Linked DNA regions of Homo sapiens: region 2 is linked to region 1. Evidence: fine-mapped expression QTL. Tissue or cell type: whole blood. Region 1 holds a variant in brackets; the other region holds the start of a gene. All regions are shown on one strand. Distances are between the middles of the regions.

Region 1 (4,383 bases):
GATCCACTTGGTTCCTCCCATCAAACTCTCTGTTACCTTGATGCAGGGCAAGATCTGGGACATGATCACATTCTCCCGACAGTCAGCTGAGAGGTTTTCACAGAACTCTGTGGGCAGGGAGAGGGAGGCAAAGGGAAGTGAGACCTGATGTGCTAGTTCCACCTCCAGCCCCTTGGATACCCACCCCACTTGCTGTGTTCCGGCTGCCAGCACCAACCTTTGACCTTGTGGGAGGCTGCGGCCCTCACCTCGGCCTCACAGTCTTTCATCAGGTTCTGGAAGGCAGGGACCAGGTCTGTCTTGGTGATCTCAGGCCCCACTGCTTTCTGGAGCTGCAGACAGGAAGGAGGAGGGGGAGAGTGAGAGGGGCTGGCAGTTTACTCTGGGCTAAGGAAGCCAAAATCAAAGTGAAGGCACCAGAATTAGGGGACAGAGCGTGGGCCTTGGAAGCAGTGCTAAAATCTAATTCGAGTGCCAAGACTGGCCCCGGGGCAAGGCTCTTCACCTCGCTGAGCCTCTTTTGCTTCCAAAGAAAAATGAGGACTGCGAGGGCACCTACCTCACGGTGTTGTCAGCATTAAAAATAACACATTTCCATATTATTCAGGCTACTGAGGTTAAGTTTTCTGTTACCTGATTCAAAAACATTCAAATGATATAGTGACTGCAACTTTTTGATTTATATATGGCTGTATTTCTTAAAGATCTGTTACCAGAAGCACGAATTACTTTTGTAATGAAAATAAAACAATAGGCCAAGTGCGATGGCTCATGCCTATAATCCCAGCACTTTGGGAAGCTGAGGTGGACAGATCGCTTGAGTCCCAGAGAACAAGACCAGCCCGGGCAACACAGTGAAACCCTGACTCTACAAAAAAAACAAAACAATTAGCCGGGTGTGGGGGCAGGCACCTATCGTCCTAGCTACTCAGAAGGCTGAAGTGGGAGGATCACCTGAGCCCAGGAGGTCAAGGCTGCAGTGAGCCGTGACTGTGCCACTGCACTCCAGCCTGGGTGATGGTGTGAGACCCTGTCTCAAAATAAAAATAAAACAATAAAGATTGACAGAAAGGAAGGCACTCTAGGGCTGGGCGTAGTGGCTTACACCTGTAATCCCAGCGCTTTGGGAGACAGAGGTGGGTGGATCACTTGAGGCCAGGAATTCGAGACCAGCCTGGCCAACATGGTGAAACCCCATCTCTACTAAAAATACAAAATTAGCTGGGTGTGGTGGTGCACACCTGTAATTCCAGCTACTCAGGAGGCTAAGGCACGAGAATCACTTGAGTCTGGGAGGTGGAGGTTGCAGTCAGCTGAGCTTGTGCCACCGTACTCCAGCCTGGGCAAAAGACTGAGACTCTGTCTTAAAAAAAAAAAAAAAGGGAGGCACGCTTGGCCCTGCCTGTTTCATGGCACCAGGCATGGAAAGACGCACGGCTCCTGCTGCAAAGCTGGTTCCTGAAGACCTGGTAGGAAGCAGGACAGTTCATTATGAAGACGGGAATGAACAAGTAAAAATCTTGAAGGACCTCATGATATCTTGGGAAAATACTGCCTTTTATTCATCTTGCAAATATTTACTGAATGTCTACTATGTGCCAAGAACTGGTTTAACAGCCTAAAATTCCTGCCCTCATGGAATTTTTATTCTAAGACCCAGTGTGACACAGTTTATGCAGCTCAGGAGACAAGGATGGGAAGAACCTTCCCTAACTGTGGTGATGGTACGCTATTCTGAAGCTCTGAGTCCTTCCCGCAAATGCCAGTGGGAACCAGCATAATTAAAGGCAAAGGGCGCCTCAGGGTGGAGTGGCACTCAAGGCCTCTCTGATCCCACCCTGCCCTCTCTCCGATCCCACCCTGCCCTCTCTCCTGCTTTCTCTCAGGCTGGGCCATCAAGATCAGGCCTGAATGTTCCTGCTTGCACTTGCTCTCACCTCCCAGGGTTCTTTGTCCTCTGGCTGGAACAAAGTTCCTATCTTAGCTCTTACCCACTCATCTTCTAGAACCAGCTGTAACACCACCTCCCCTCCTCAATGCTTCCAAGGCCCCACATCTGTCTGTCTGTCCCACACCTGTGACACTTTATAATCAAATTTCCCCTAAGTCAGTCTTCCCCTTCAGACTGCCT[A/G]GCTCCATGAAGGCCAGGAATGATCCGAATTCACTGGCCCAGCAAATAGCTGGTGCTCAGCAAACATGTTTGTGGGATGAGGCAATCTGGATCCCTGTGGAAGGAGCACTGTCCTGAGAGTCACAGACCTGGAGTCTTGTCCCCTTTCTGCCTGGCTGGTAGTGTCACTCTGATCAGTTAATTAAACTTTCCGGGGCTGGGCGCGGTGGCTAACACCTGTAATCCCAGCACTTTGGGAGATGAAGGCAGGCGGATCGCTTGAGGTCAGGAGTTCGAGACTAGCCTGGCTAACAACATGGTGAAACCCCGTCTCTAATAAAAATACAAAAACTAGCCGGGTGTCGTGGTGGGCATCTGTAATCCCAGTCCCTCAGGAGGCTGAGGCAGGAGAAATGCCTGCACCCGGGAGGGACAGGCTGCAGTGAGCCAAGATTGCGCCACCACACTCCAGCTGGGTAACAAGACTCTAGCCTGGGCGACAGACTCCATCTTAAAAAAAAAAAAAAAAAAAAAAAAAAAAAACACCAAAAAACCCCACCTTTTTGGGCTGTCTTCCCCTTTGTGAAAGGACAGCTTGATTATGTCAGGAACACCCCACATGTGCTACCCTTCTCTGCTCCTGTGGCACTTTCCTCCACGTAGCCTTAACTTTGCCTCAGAATCTTTCTCAAGGCAGCACTTTAAGATGCCATGTCAATCAACCAGGATTGGCACACGAAGCGAGACGCAGTTAGATGATCATAGAGATCTTATTGCTCAAACGCCCAATGGTTCCATCGGCCTAATGGAAACCTCAGCTCCTATATGCTTCCCTTCTGAGAGTGTCAGTGTCCCCACCAGTGGGACAATGTCAACGGTCGCTCATCTACCTCTGTGAACTTGTCAGCCACCATGTAGCGGACGCGCCAGGACTTGTCTTCAGCGGCCTGGCGCAGAGTGGGCATCACCAGGGCCTCCAGATCCTCCTGGGGCAGAAGCTGGGCGATGTTCACGCACGCCTCCACCGCCAGCAGCCGCACCGAGTCCTAGGGAGAGGAGAGGAACAGTGGGAGGGCAGCAGAGGCCTTGCTGAGCTCTGGGATTCTCTTTCATGGGCAGGAACCACCAGAAGGACGGGAGAGCAGAGGGCCAGGAAGCAAAACTCACCTGCTCGTCAGAGGCCAGGTTGGAGAACATGGGGATGATCTCACTCTTGACGTTGTCCAGCTCCAGCACCTTGGCAAACTCCCCCAGCTTGGAGGCTGCGGCCCGCCGCACCATGGGGGTGTCATCTGAGCACAGGTTCCGGAAGTACCTGGGAGTCGGGGACGGGGATCCTGAGGCAGCAGGCAGTATGGCAGAGAGGAGCAAGCACAGACTCTGCAGTTGTGTGGGTCCAGGTTTTAGCTGAATGACCTTGGGCAAGTGATGACCCCCTCTCTGTCTTCCCAGCCCTATGAAACGGAGCTGATAGTAACAGTACCTACCCCACAGGTCCGCATGAGGTTTAAATGAAAATAGTGTGTGTGAGACACTTCGCAGATTGCGCATAATAAATCTAGTCAATGCTAAGTGCTGACGATTACATCATTCCCATAAAAATTGCTTAACCAACGAGCCAGGCACAGTGGCTCATACCTGTAATCTGAACACTTTGGAAGACCAAGGCAGGAGGATTGCTTGAGCCCAGGAGTTCAAGACCAGCCTGAGCAACATAGTGAGACCCCATCTCTGCCAAAAATAAAAAATGAGCCCAGCGTGGTGTTGCACACCTGTGGTCCCAGCTATTTGAGAGGCTAAGGCAGGAGGAATGCTTGAGCCCAGGAGGTTGAGGCTGCAGTGGGCTATGACTGCACCAGTGCACTTCAGCCTGGATGACAGAGCGAGATCCTATCTCAAAAAACAAACAAACAAAAAACTGCTTAACTAAGAGGCAGGTCTAGAGCCACAGAAAGGCTTTATTTTTCAGCAGCAATTGCTTCGATCAAAGGCGGTGGGGGCCAGTGTAAGTATCTAAGCAAGTGTACAGCCATAAACCAGAGTTCTGGAGTGAGTCAGGCTCAAACCCGGGCTTGACGGTCAATCGTTTGCAAAGTAGACGAGCAGGAGGCTGAAAACTGAGGTGGTTTATCTGCCAAAGGCACTGGACCTGGGACAGGCTGGAGATACCATCAGATGTAAGTTGCTGAAAGTTTTTATGTTCCAGATTTTGCTCTAAGCACTTTATGTGTGATAATTCTTTTAAATCCTCACATTAACCAGTGGGAAGGAGG
Region 2 (4,383 bases), 24 kb after region 1:
TCTGGATCCTGTATAGCAACTGGTGTCTCCACTATATCCCCAGCATCATATCTCATACATGGCATATATTTACTGAACAAAAGAATTCATACAACCGCCCTATGAACTAGGTAATTAACCCCATTAAAGAGAAGAGGAAACAGGCCTAGAGAGATTAACTAACTTGCCCTTGTCAATCAGTAACAAGTGGAAGGGCCGGGAATACAACCACAACCTGTATGCCACCAGAAACAGTGATATACCAGGAACCTAGGAGGCGAGACCCACGTTTGGCAGGTTACCCAGTGCACCTTGTCCAATTTTATAAATGGGAAAACAGACCTAAAGGGAGGATGGGACCTCTTTAATCACCACTCCCAATAATTACAGCTAATATTTATCGAGCCCTTACAACAGGCCTGACACCATTCTACTTTTTATTTGTGTCATAATTCGTTCAGTCCCTCACAAGTCCCTCCAGCAAGACCAGGACTACAATTAGCCCATATTTTATGGAACACAGAGACCCAAAGCGGTGAAGTAATTTGCACAAGGTCACACAGCAGGTGGGAGGTGGACTTGCAGTTCTAACTGTTCTCAATCCCACACCAGCCCGGCTCAGAGCCTTGGGTCACCTCATCCCATAACCAGGAATGTTCATCCGGGCTGGGCGCGGTGGCTCACGCCTGTAATTCCAACACTTTGGGAGGCCGAGGCGGGTGGATCGCTTGAGGTCAAGAGTTCCCGACCAAGCCTGGCCAACATGGTGAAACCCCGTCTCTGCTAAAAATACAAAAATTAGTCGGGCGTGGTGGCTCGCGCCGGTAATCGCAGCTAATTAGGGAGCTGAGGGGCGAGGATGGTTTGAACCCGGTATGCAGAGGTTGCACTGAGCCGAGATCGCGCCACTGCTCCCCAGCCCCAGCCTGGGCGACACAGAGACTGTCTCAAAAAAAAGAAATAAATAAATGTTCATCTGCTTAGCAAATCCCTCAACCCCTATCCTGGTCAATGGGAGGATCCGGGGAGATGGGGAGGCGGGTTTCTACAACCTAATTCGCTCCTAAACTTGGCTAGTCCCCACCTTTGGTGGGGGGGTGTTTTTGCGTCCCCGTCCTCTTAGGACACCTAAACCAAAATGAGAGGCGGAGGAAGAGCAGGAATTAGGATGGCAGGCCTTCGCCTCTCGGTCCCCACTTGGCCCAGCAGTCGAAACCCAGAAAACAAAAAAACCTTCCCAGGTCCCGACCCACCCGGCGGCCCTCCCCTACTTGGAGCAAGTCATGCGCGCCCCACATCCCCAAGAGGCCATTCAGAGGCCGCCGCCAATCACGGAGTCCTCCTCTCTCCCAGACCCAGTCCGCAGACCCCAGCCCTGGCCACAACCTCCCAGGACCGCGGACCGCCGCGCGCACAGGGCAGGCCCGGGACCCTCGAGGCTAGCGCTGGCCCCCGCCCTCCACTGGGCCGACACCCAATCGGGAGCGCCGTCTCAAGGAGTCCGGGCAACCGGGGAGATAAGAGACGCACGCTGATTGGCCGTCGCCCCCTTCCGCCACTCCCAGCGAACGCTGAGTCTTCTCCGCGAGGGCCGCCCGTGCCCCCAGGTACCCCTCCGCGTCTTCCCCAAGTCCCCCGTAGCCTCCGGACCTGAACGTCCTCATTGCGGAGTTCGTCTATGAGCACCGCGATGGGGTACAGCGAGTCGTCGCCGTCGGCCGCCGCCATCTTGGCTCCGTCCCTTTCCTGTCAGACTGCGGCCAGCGCTGTGCTGAAACGTGGGGGGGGCAATGCTGGGAGAAGAAGGAAGGGCGGGCGTGGGGGCGCCCGAGCCAGTTTACAGGGGCTGCTCCACGGCCATTGGCCGCGCTACCCAGGGCTAAGCTCGCGTTTCTTTGGTCCGGACTTGTGAAGTCCCGCCCACTTCCGATTTGCCATTGGTCGAGTGAACAAGATTTGACTAGTTTGAGCCTAGGAGAGGGGGAAGAAAGCGGAAGTTAGCCGTGTCCTAGCGACCAAGATTGTACCCGCCCTGGTCGCTGCTAACAACGACCGAGACGAGCAGTAGTTTCTAGCCAATGAGGGGCGACATGGGGAGGAGGCTAAGCCTGCCCTTTCTTGAGTCCCCGGGAAGGCTTCTGCGCGTGCGTCGGTGGTAATACGTGACGTCCTGTGGGGAGCTGGAGGGTGTGCAGGTTTTGGGTTACCAGGCCGTGGTTCCGCTGGCTGGCTGGCTGGCTCTCCGCGCCGTTGCGCGGCAGGAGGAGGGAGTGAGACTTTGATTTGTGCTTGATTTATGCCAAGGCCCAGAGAAGGGAGCGACTTGCCCTTCTCTCTTTTTTCTTTTTCTTTCTTTTTTTTTTTTTTTTTTTTTTACTTTTTTAAAGACAGGGTCTCGCTCTGTTGCCCAGACTGTAGTGCAGTGGCAGGATCTTGGCTCACTGCCGCCTGGACCTCCCCGAGCTCAAATGATCCTCTCGCCTCAGCCTGCAGAAATAGCTGGGACTATCGGCGCGCGCCGCTAGGCCCGGCCAATTTTTAAAAAAATGTTTGTGGAGACCGAGTCTCACTGTGTTGAGCTCAGTTGCCTTGCTGTTTGGATGAAACCCAAGCCCCTCGGGCTGGTATTCAATACCCTGTCTAGGCGCGTCTCCCATCTGTTTTTTACCTTTTATCTGATGTCCTGGAGAATTACAGCTGCCTGAGCACTTCTTGCGTTTTCATGCCAGCAAGCCTCCTTGCCCAAGCTGTGCGTTCTGCTAGGGGTGCCTTTCATATTCACTTCTGAGATCTCTGCATAAATGCCTCCCCTTTACTCCCTTTCCTCTCTGTCTTCAGGCTCTGTTCTCTAGGCTTCCAGAGCCACAGAACCCCTCTCTCTGTCTCTCCAGTCCCATCTATCTCTCTGTCTCTCCAATCCCATCTCTCTCTCTCTCTCTCTCCAATCCAATCTCTCTCTCTGTCTCTCAATCCCAGAGCCTGGGCTGTGACTATGTATTCGAATTTGTTTCCTCCATAGAGTGGGAGCAGGATTGGATCTGACTAATCTCTGTTTTTAACCTCTTCAACACAGCCCTACCCCCCCACCGCAATCTTAGGACCACTCTAACTGAGGGAGTTGAATGGGGATGGGAAGGCCTGGGATGCTCTTTCCTCCTTTATTCTGCTACTTGAAGGGCTAGGCTGAGCTAGCACTCTGACAGATCTGAATACCCACAGCATCTATTTCTTTTTTCTTCTTTTTCTTTTTCTTTTTTTTTTTTTGAGACGGAGTCTCGCTCTGTTGCCCAGGCTAGAATGCAGGGGCCCGATCTCGGCATACTACAGCCTCTGTCTCCTGGGTTCAAACAATTATCCTGTCTCAGCCTCCAGAGTACCTGGGATTACAGGCGCCTACCACAACGCCCGGTTAATTTTTGTATTTTTAGTAGAGACGGGGTTTCACCACTTTGGGCCAGGCTGGTCTCAAACTCCTGACCTCAGGGTGATCTGCCTGCCTTGGCTTCCCAAAGTGCTGGGATTACAGGTGTGAGCCACCGCACCCGGCCTTTTTTTTGAGGCGGAGTTTCGCTCTTGTTGCCCCGGCTGAAGTGCAGTGGCTCAATCTCTGCTCACTGCAACCTCCACCTCTCGGGTTCAAGCGATTCTTCTGCCTCAGCCTCCGGAGTAGCTGGAATTTACAGGCATGAGCCACCACGCCCGGCTAATTTTGTATTTTTAGTAGAGACGGGGTTTCACCGTGTTGGCTGTCTTTGGTCTCGAACTCCTGACCTCAGGTGATCCGCCCACTTGGACTTCCCAGAGCGCTGGGATTACAGGTGTGAGCCACCGTGCCCGGCCCAGCATCTATTTCAAATACCCTTACCCACTGCAGTTAGGAAACTGCTGCTCATAAAAGTGGGGATGGGGTTGAATATTTCAGTCCCAGCCCTCCCTATTCCCAGGACTCCTCTCAGCCCCAAGGTCTCTGAGGCTAGGGATCTTTTTAGCTATGCGTGCCTGTCTTGGTGTCAGGCTGCTTGGGATGTTGGGCTGGTGGCCTTTGAAGTGCTTAGGGCCTAGGAATTTTCAGAGGCTTAAATGAGGCATTATAAATCTCAGAAACAAAATAAAAACAAATTATGGATTCCAAAATGCAAAACAAAACTGCAAACTTTAATAAGTATTTAACAAATACCTATACAAATCAATACCTATACAGATCAATACCTATACAGATCAATACCTATACAGATCAATACCTATACAAATCAATACCTATACAGATCAATGCCAGTGATAATAGCTACAGTAAAGTGTATTCAGTAAATTAATTCATTTAACCCTGACAATAACTCTATGATATATGTAAAGTAGCAGCATCATCCTAATTTAATGGATGAGGAAACCGAGGCATAGAGAACT

What was found. PIP is the estimated chance that this variant, and not a neighbour inherited with it, causes the effect. A credible set is the group of variants that fine-mapping cannot tell apart.
Region 2: PPP2R1A starts here. The variant in region 1 is the best candidate, but not a certain one, in a credible set for the expression of PPP2R1A in whole blood (TOPMed, PIP 0.65).

Annotation. Positions count from the first base shown.
Region 1 is chr19:52,211,728-52,216,110 of GRCh38, reverse strand. It overlaps PPP2R1A (protein phosphatase 2 scaffold subunit Aalpha), which reads right to left. Exons shown (of 15, transcript NM_014225.6): 5 at 3,278-3,425; 6 at 3,001-3,156; 7 at 218-332; 8 at 37-107. Among named protein-coding and RNA genes, the nearest start is that of MIR6801, 8.1 kb to the left of the region's middle. The variant A/G (reference allele first, on the strand shown) is at 2,132.
Region 2 is chr19:52,187,421-52,191,803 of GRCh38, reverse strand. PPP2R1A (protein phosphatase 2 scaffold subunit Aalpha) reads right to left here and starts at 1,752. Exons shown (of 15, transcript NM_014225.6): 1 at 1,630-1,752. The coding sequence starts at 1,707. RefSeq lists enhancers at 1,537-1,776, 1,227-2,194, 2,107-2,326, 2,337-2,386, 2,417-2,546 and 1 more.